Linked DNA regions of Homo sapiens. The protein of the gene in region 2 binds, or shares a complex with, the protein of the main gene of each other region. Each region holds a gene or a part of one and is shown on either strand. Other genes may lie near its edges. The genes, in order: RAP1B and RASIP1. A codon is read from its position in the direction of its gene.

Region 1 (3,910 bases), on a different chromosome or scaffold from region 2:
AGGAATACACAACTTTACTTAGAATTCTTTTTTTTTTTTTCCTTTAATAAGGTACTAGGTTTTGACAAGCTTGCATCATGCGTGAGTATAAGCTAGTCGTTCTTGGCTCAGGAGGCGTTGGAAAGTCTGCTTTGGTAAGTCATTCTTACTTTACCTAAGCCTTTCACTCCAAGACGTTCTTTTTCTGTTGAGTTTTAGGTTTTGATGATTTGTCTTTGTTAAGATAAAATTCCTTAATGACTTTAGAAGCAATATAATATTTTTCTTGTAATTTTATTCAACTTTTAATTATATCTGGGTGGATCATATTCTCTCTGGAACATTGACTCCAGAATGACACGAGTTATGCTGGAATACAATTTGAGCTAAGCACAGAGATTGAGAGCGTACAAATACATGTCTTTTTGCATTCGCATTTCAGAGCCAGATAGGAATAAATTTTGGTCTTTTTATTTATTTATTTTTTTGAAACAGGGTCTCACTCTGTTGCCCAGGCTAGGGCTCAAGTGATCTCAGCCTCCTGAATGCTTGGGACTACAGGCACGTGCCACCATGCCAGGCTAATTTTTAAAATTTTTTGTAGAGATGGCGTCTTGCTATATTGCTTAGGCTGGTCTTAAACTCCTGGCCTCAAGTAATCCACCTTTGCCTCCCAAAGTGCTGGAATTACAGGCATAAATCACCATGCCTGGCTTGCTCTTTCTTCTTATGAATAGTCTTACCCTGTACATTTTATGTTAGAAAATATCAAAGCTTATAAAAAGTCTTCAAATATTACCTTTGACTGTCCAGCTTTACATTTTTTAACGGCACGTTTTCTGCATCAAGGAATGGTATAGCAAGAATGAAGACATAACTGGGTAATGAGGGTTGGGAAAGAGGAAAAACGTAGGGAAAATAATTTGATGAATAGTTCAGAGCTTAGCAAAGCCTCACAAGCAAATAGATTGACCTTCTGTCTCACTCATAAGATAAACCATCTTGGCCACTTAGAAAGGCCACCTAGCTGAGAAGTGTCATGCTTGGAACAAACTGAGAAGTACATACAATGTGAAATGAACTGCTTTTTCATTTGTATCCAAAGTGATGGGGAGGTCAGTTGATCCTGCATGTATGTGTGTATACATAACAATTAGTCAATTTCTAATTTAAAAATCAAATTTAAGCTCTTAAGACTGAAACAATGCCGGCACAGTGGCTCACGCCTGTAATCCCAGCACTTTGGGAGGCTGAGGTGGGCGGATCACCTGAGGTCAGGAGTTCGAGAGCAGCCTGGCCAATATAGTGAAACCCCGTCTCTACTAAAAATATAAAAATTAGCCAGGTGTGGTGGTGCATGCCTGTAATCCCAGCTACTCGGGAGGCTGATGTGGGAGAATGGCCTGAACCCGGGAGGCAGAGGTTGCAGTGAGCCAAAATTGCGTCACTGCACTTCAGCCTGGGAGACAGAGCAAGACTCTGTCTCAAAGAAAAAAAACAAAGGACTGAAACCAGAGACATTTAAAATTTTTTAATATATGATCTCTAAATTTAGAATTACCCAATAAGGAGCATAGTGATTATTTATTTAAAAATAAACAGCTTCCTGAGGTAATTTTCTTACCAAATGTACACATTCGAATGTAGTATTGGCTGTGGTTTTTTTTTTCATTGATGGTGTAACTCCCTGTGTGAACTCAGTTTACAATTACATTAAAGATTGAATGTACTCTTTTCTTTAGAAGTATAATGGTTTCTTAATTTTTTTTTCAGACTGTACAATTTGTTCAAGGAATTTTTGTAGAAAAATACGATCCTACGATAGAAGATTCTTATAGAAAGGTATATATTACTTTGGAAGGCCTTTTGCTTTTGATTTTAATATAAATACTTATTTTAGCTTTATAATTATTGAATGTTTTATACAAAGGATGGAGGCAGAGTTAATTTATAAAATTAGTGGGAAAAGTTTACACTTTCTGGCATTGCATAGTTACCAGTTTAAGAGGATCATAAACACCCATACTCTCACATATTCACAGAATTTTTTGTAATTTGACACATAAACTTTAAAGCAGACCATCCATTTCAAGTAGTAGCCCCATGTTACTTTCAGTCCCCTACCTAGCAAGACTGATTACTCTCAAGCTCCCTTCTTTTTAACCTAGAAATAGGTGGACACAGGTCTTCCTAAGCTTTCTACTTACTAACCTCTTGAGAAAGTGCCACCACTCACAATACTGGTTGAATATCCCTTATCTGAAATAACTGGGACCAGAAGTATTTCAGATTTCAGATTATTTTCTGATTTTAGAATATTTGTATATACATAATGAAATAGAATGGGACCCACATCTAAACAATTCATGGTTTCATATACACCTCATACACATAATCTTACATAATATTTTTAATATTCTTATGCATGATACAAAGTTTTGGCTGCATTTTGACTGTGACTGGTCACATGAGCTCATGTGTGGAATTTTCCACTTGTAGCGTGATGTTCCACACATGGCTCAAAAACTTTTGGATTTGGAACATTGCAAGTTTTGGATTTTTAGATTAGGGATGCTCAGCCTATAGAAAGGTGAATTCCTGTGTCCACTAACAGCATGTGACAATAAAACAATGTGTAGACATTTTTAACTTAGTAGGGAAAGAGGTATTTCCCAACCTCTATGAAGCAGCCAACCTGGCCCCGCTGTTGCACAAATACTGTGTTTCCATTCCTCCCTCCATGTGCATAGTCTACCAAAAAAAAAACTGGAAACTTTTGCACCCCAGCTGTGAGACAGTATTACTCTTTTCTTTCTACATCTAATTCTAAATACCTATTTTTCCCTAGGAAATATTAGATGGAAAGGGGTAACAGGGATATATGTGTAATTTATTTAATAGCTGTGCCACTGCTTCCTTAATTCCAGAAATCTTGTTCCAGTATGGTGAGGGCATATAGTTACCTAGAGAAATGAGGTATATCTAAAGTATCATGGGAGAATTTAGACAGAATTACTTATGATACTGTTGGAACTGTTGCTGGTTTTGTTTGTTTATTTGAGCTATTTCGAAACTATTTTTTTCTCTAGAATTAAGTGCTGAGAATCCATATTGAGACTGGTTCGTGTAGGTTTCCCTGTGTTGACTTGAGAACACATGGCTTTTGAACTTGATTACAATTTGGGGGTCTTTGAATCTTGATTACTTAGCTATTTTTCCTCCTGCTTTGTTGAAGTATTGCTGGATATTAGTTTGTAAAGTTGTTAAAATCTGTGTGTCTTATTTTTGATACATTAGCTTTTTTGTGTATATTAAGGTAGTTTTATGTACATTGAAAAAATGAACATGTATTTTAATTTTTCTACCAGCAAGTTGAAGTAGATGCACAACAGTGTATGCTTGAAATCTTGGATACTGCAGGAACGGTAGGTAAAACTAAATACCAAAGTATATACACCGTTTGTACAGTATTGACTTCATAAATGCTAGTACTCTATAGACAAATATTAGTTAAGCTTATTTAAAAGTACTGCTTGCAGCCGGTTGTAGTGGCTCACACCTCTATTCCCAGCACTTCGGGAGGTCAAGGTTGCTGGATCACTTGAGGTCAGGAGTTCGAGACCAGCCTGGCCAACATAGTGAAACCCCATCTCTACTAAAAATACAAAAATTAGCCAGGTGTGGTGGTGGGAGCCTGTAATCCCAGCTACTCAGGAGGCTGAGGCAGGAGAATCTCTTGAACCCAGGAGGCAGAGGTTGCAGTGAGCCAAGACTGTGGAGATTGTGCCACTGCATTCCAGCCTGGGTGACAGAGCGAGACTCTGTGTCAAAAAAAAACATAAGACTACTAGTTGCTAAACTTTAAATCTTTTTGTTGTTGTTCCGTTGAATCCTTAATTTTATATTGGCCGGGCGCAGTGGCTCACGCCTG
Region 2 (3,910 bases):
CCTTACCAGAAAGTGGGGATTGGTTAGAGAAAGGAACTTTCAAAGATCAGCAAATTGCTAGTGTCCTCTAACCTACCACACAGGGCGAATCCCTTAGGCCCCTGCGGACTCCTGCCCATTCCACTGGACTCCACAAACGCTCCTCAGGATCTACTACTCCGCAGACCCCGCTACACACCCCACCTCCTCCAAGGCAGTCTGAAATGCCTGCAGAAGGCCCTAACCCCAATTCGGAGCCACTTCAGGCCACTCCAAGCCACCACCAGCAACCAGCCCCCGTCCCGCCTAAGCCCCAAGCTTGGCCCCTGTAAAACTCCTGCTCAATCAACAAGCCCCACCCAACTCTCAGGCCCGCCCATCTGGCCGCCCCCGGCCCTGCTCTAGCTCTGCCTAGAGTCCAACACGCACCGTCCAGTCCCCTCCCAGTCCCCTCCCGCGGGCCCCGCCCCCAGCCAGCCCGCGAGTCCCACAAGCCCCGCCCAGGCCCCGCCCCACGGACCCCGCCTCTCTGGCACCGAGTCCCCGCCCCAGAGCCCCGCCCGCCGCTCACCTTCGCTGTCCGCGGCCCCGAAGGCCTCCTGCTCCAGGCGCCGCGCCTCCTCGCGGCCGCGCAACTCGAAGCGCCGCGCCCAGCCGGGCCGCGCCCGCCACAGCTCCTGCACCAGCAGCGGGCGCTCGGAGTCGCCCAGCACGCGCAGGTGCTCCGCCCGCCACTCGCCGCTTCCCACGCCCGCCGCCGCGGGCCGGCCCAGAGCGTCGCACAAAGCGAAGGCGTCCACGCAGCTGCTCTCGCCGGGGCCACCGCCGGGGCTGCCTGCTAGGCCGTAGCGCTCTAGCGCCTCGGCCACGAGCTCGCGCGCCGTGGAGCGCGCCGTGGCCAGCACGCTCTTGTAGTTGGCGCCCGATGCCAGTCCGGCGCCGAAGATCTTGAGGACCCCCGGAGGCGCCGTGGCGCGGGTAGCCAGCGGGGGCTCGGGGGCCACGCCCGCCGCCAGCTCCGGCAGCTTCTTCTCGCTGGCCCAGCGCTGCGCGCCCCCCGGGGTCCCAGGGCCTCCTGCGCCGCTGGACCCCGTGGTCCCGGTCCCCGAGCCCCGGAAGAGCTGGGAGATGCGCTTGGCGCGGCTACCGGAGGCTCCCCCGGCCGCCTTGACAGCGCCCACTCGCCGCAGCTCCACGTGCGGCGGGGGCGGAGGTAGCGGCTCGCTGCTGCGGCTCCCCGTGTCCGACGAAGAAGACCTGGGAGTCCGCCGGGGAACAGAGTCGCGGGAGAGAGACCCAGGACGACACGCCAAGACGGGGGTGGGGGCATATTAGGAGGGAAGTGGGCAGAGACCCAGAGGGAGGACAGGGACCCAGGGTGGATGGACGGGGCGGGGGTGAGGGTGGGGACAGACGCGAGGCAAAGAGAGAGAGAAAAAATAAATAAATAAAGGCAAGTCCCACAGTAGGAAATTCCAAGAGGTGAGCAGGGAGGGGAGGAAGGAAGGTGAATCAATCCCCCTGCTCCTTCTGTCCCCGTCCCCGTGCCCATCCGGCCTCACTCCACCTCCTAGCCTAGCTCTTACTCCCACCGCGCCCTGGTATCACTGTGCCCCACCGTCTCCCCCTGCCCACCAGCTCGTTTGCCCAATTCAGGATGAGGACCGGAGCCAACACTTTGCAGGGACTGGGCAGTGAACAGGGACAGATGGGAAGCAGGTGTGCAGGGGCAGGAGTCCTGCAGAGATGGCACTCACTTGACAGAGGCTGCGCTGGGCCAGCGCCGCCCCAGCTTCGCCAGCTGCTTCCTGGGGGAATTGATCCACAGGCCCACGGGGAGATGAAGCTTCCCGAAGCGGGGGCTTCCGCCCTCCTTCCGTTCACCAGACAGCATGGCCCTAAGGGAAGGCGGGTAAGGCCCCAACTCCTAAGGCATTCTTGTGGGGATGGGGTGGAGGGAACCTGGACTCCGAGTCAGAGGGAGGAGGGGGCTGGGGCTCAGACTTGCGAGTCCAGGGGGAGGAGAGGGATGGTACCCTGGATTCCTGGGTCCTGGGATGGAAGATGGCTGGGGGACTGAGTCTTGGGGCCCAGGGAGGAGGGGTTTGGGCTGCTGGGTCCCTGGCTCTTACCCTGCTTCGGGTCCGGCACACCCGGAGGCCCTGGCTCCACTGGCCTGGGTCAGTTCCACTGCTCTTGCCTCTGCCACGGCTCCCAGCACTGGGTGGGGGACAGGAAAAGGCAAGAGGAAACCCGGCAGGAAGAGCGGGGAGGGGGCGTCCTGTGAGGAGACCAGGCCTGGGGGAGGAGATCTGGGTAGGGTTGGCCCTGCCCCATTCCTTGATTCTGGAATTACATCGCAGTCAGTTGGTCCCCTCCAGGACCCAAGGGTCCCGGTTTTCTGCCCTTCCTCCCTCAGGCCGGAGCCCATCCCCAGACCTCTCCTCTCGGGGAACCAAAGGCTAGAATCAGTCCCGTCCCGGGGAGTGAGTCAGATGCTTAGACAACAAGATAAATCTTTATTGTTGCCTCGAATCTGTGGCCTTTTCTTTTGGGACCTGGGTTTGCTCGGCCGCTCCACTGCCAAGGCCAAACAGTGAGGATTTGATGAAATCGATCACCTTCCTTCGACGAAATATCCTAGGGGTGGGAGTGGGGTGCAGATCATGGAACCGGTTTGGGTACTAATTGTGTGGGGGACACCCCTCCCAACCTCCCCCTTTGTGACCTTATTCTAGCAATTACCTAAGCCTCGCCCTTCGAAGTCCTCCTATTCAAGCCCCCCGCACTCCATCCCCAGGAAAGTCCTGCTCTCAGGCCTCAGTAGCCCCCAGACCAGCTTCTGTGTTGGGTTCCTGGAAGCCCCGCCCCTTACTCCAAGCCAAGCCTGTCTTCTTCAATGGGTTGCTTACGCAAAGGTAAGGCCGGTTATCAGTGCTAGGGAGCCGCAGATCAGCAGCCCCAGAAGGCGGCTTGCCAGCATTTTCTCGGGCTGCAGAGGCTGGAGGCTTATGGACGACTCCGTGGTCGCCTCCCCCGGGGTTACGATATTTGGAGAAGGTTTTTCCTCCTTGATCATTTTGGGCAACACTGTTAGAGAAAGCGTAAAGAGCAGTCCTGGCAGGGCGTGGAGTTCCTGCCCTGGCAAAGACAAGCCCGTCCCAGTAGCCGGCCATCCCAGAGATAATCACGCCTTCAACAGTGTCAAGCCTGAACACACCCAAGGGAACCCCTGTCCTCGGGGCCAGAGGCCACGCCCCCGGCAGGAAGCCACACCCCGTGCCCCGAAACCACACCCAACAGGAAGTCACGCCCCCATCGCCAAGGCCACGCCCCCGCCGCGGACCCCAGCTTTCCTGGGCCCTGAATCCTACACTTCTCTCAGCCCCACAGCACTGACCTGTGACGTGAAAATTGATGATCGTGGCTGGGCTGGAATTCACAGAGCCCAGCTCGCAGCGGTAGCTGCCTGCATCCTCTGGACCCACCATGGGCTTGGTCAGGGTGGCCTCTTTCCCCTTGGACACCAAGGTCTCCGTATTGTTCCCCCAAACCTAGACCCAAGCTCAAGGGGTCACTGAGGCCTGAGGAATTCAGGGGTTGGGGGAGTACAGGGGTGAGAAGATCACAGGGCCTCAGTGTGGGAGGTGAGTGTCCAGGGTGTCACTGGTCAGGGCACGGGGTCCCCAGAGGTCTGTAGAGACCACACCTAATAGACCACCCTCCTGGGTCATGAGAATCGTGGGTGCAGGCCCATAGATCCAGAACACAAGTATTGTAGTCTAGGGAGTTCAAGGGTTACAGAAGTTGAGGCCCTCACCCTGTAAAAGCTGTAATCAGTGAGGCCTTCCGAAGCCTGATGCCAGTTTAACTCACAGTCCAGGATCATGTCTTCCATTTGAGGAACTTCCACATTCCGCTCTGGGGGTGG

Evidence for each region.
Region 1: the proteins of RASIP1 (region 2) and RAP1B are in contact, whole or in part, in a crystal structure (PDB 5KHO), measured with the Homo sapiens proteins. Residues at the interface, in NP_060275.2 of Homo sapiens: Val147 (codon at 935), Lys149 (codon at 929), Ala156 (codon at 908), Ser157 (codon at 905), Gly158 (codon at 902), Ala159 (codon at 899), Asn160 (codon at 896), Tyr161 (codon at 893), Lys162 (codon at 890), Ser163 (codon at 887), Val164 (codon at 884), Leu165 (codon at 881), Glu181 (codon at 833), Arg182 (codon at 830); in NP_001010942.1 of Homo sapiens: Val24 (codon at 1,765), Gln25 (codon at 1,768), Asp33 (codon at 1,792), Pro34 (codon at 1,795), Thr35 (codon at 1,798), Ile36 (codon at 1,801), Glu37 (codon at 1,804), Asp38 (codon at 1,807), Ser39 (codon at 1,810), Tyr40 (codon at 1,813), Arg41 (codon at 1,816), Glu54 (codon at 3,381), Leu56 (codon at 3,387), Phe64.

The regions. Positions count from the first base shown.
Region 1 is NC_000012.12:68,648,648-68,652,557, forward strand, and holds part of RAP1B (ras-related protein Rap-1b isoform 1 precursor), read left to right. Parts: intron 1-51; 5' UTR 52-77; coding exon 78-134; intron 135-1,752; coding exon 1,753-1,821; intron 1,822-3,347; coding exon 3,348-3,404; intron 3,405-3,910. UniProt on the Homo sapiens protein: GTP-binding protein that possesses intrinsic GTPase activity. Contributes to the polarizing activity of KRIT1 and CDH5 in the establishment and maintenance of correct endothelial cell polarity and vascular lumen.
Region 2 is NC_000019.10:48,738,410-48,742,319, forward strand, and holds the start of RASIP1 (ras-interacting protein 1), read right to left. Parts: upstream 2,202-3,910; 5' UTR 2,112-2,201; intron 1,878-2,111; 5' UTR 1,874-1,877; coding exon 1,737-1,873; intron 1,237-1,736; coding exon 551-1,236; intron 1-550. Other genes in the region: IZUMO1 (izumo sperm-egg fusion protein 1 isoform 1 precursor), read right to left, coding at 2,499-2,619, 2,892-3,069, 3,380-3,533, 3,800-3,900. UniProt on the Homo sapiens protein: Required for the proper formation of vascular structures that develop via both vasculogenesis and angiogenesis.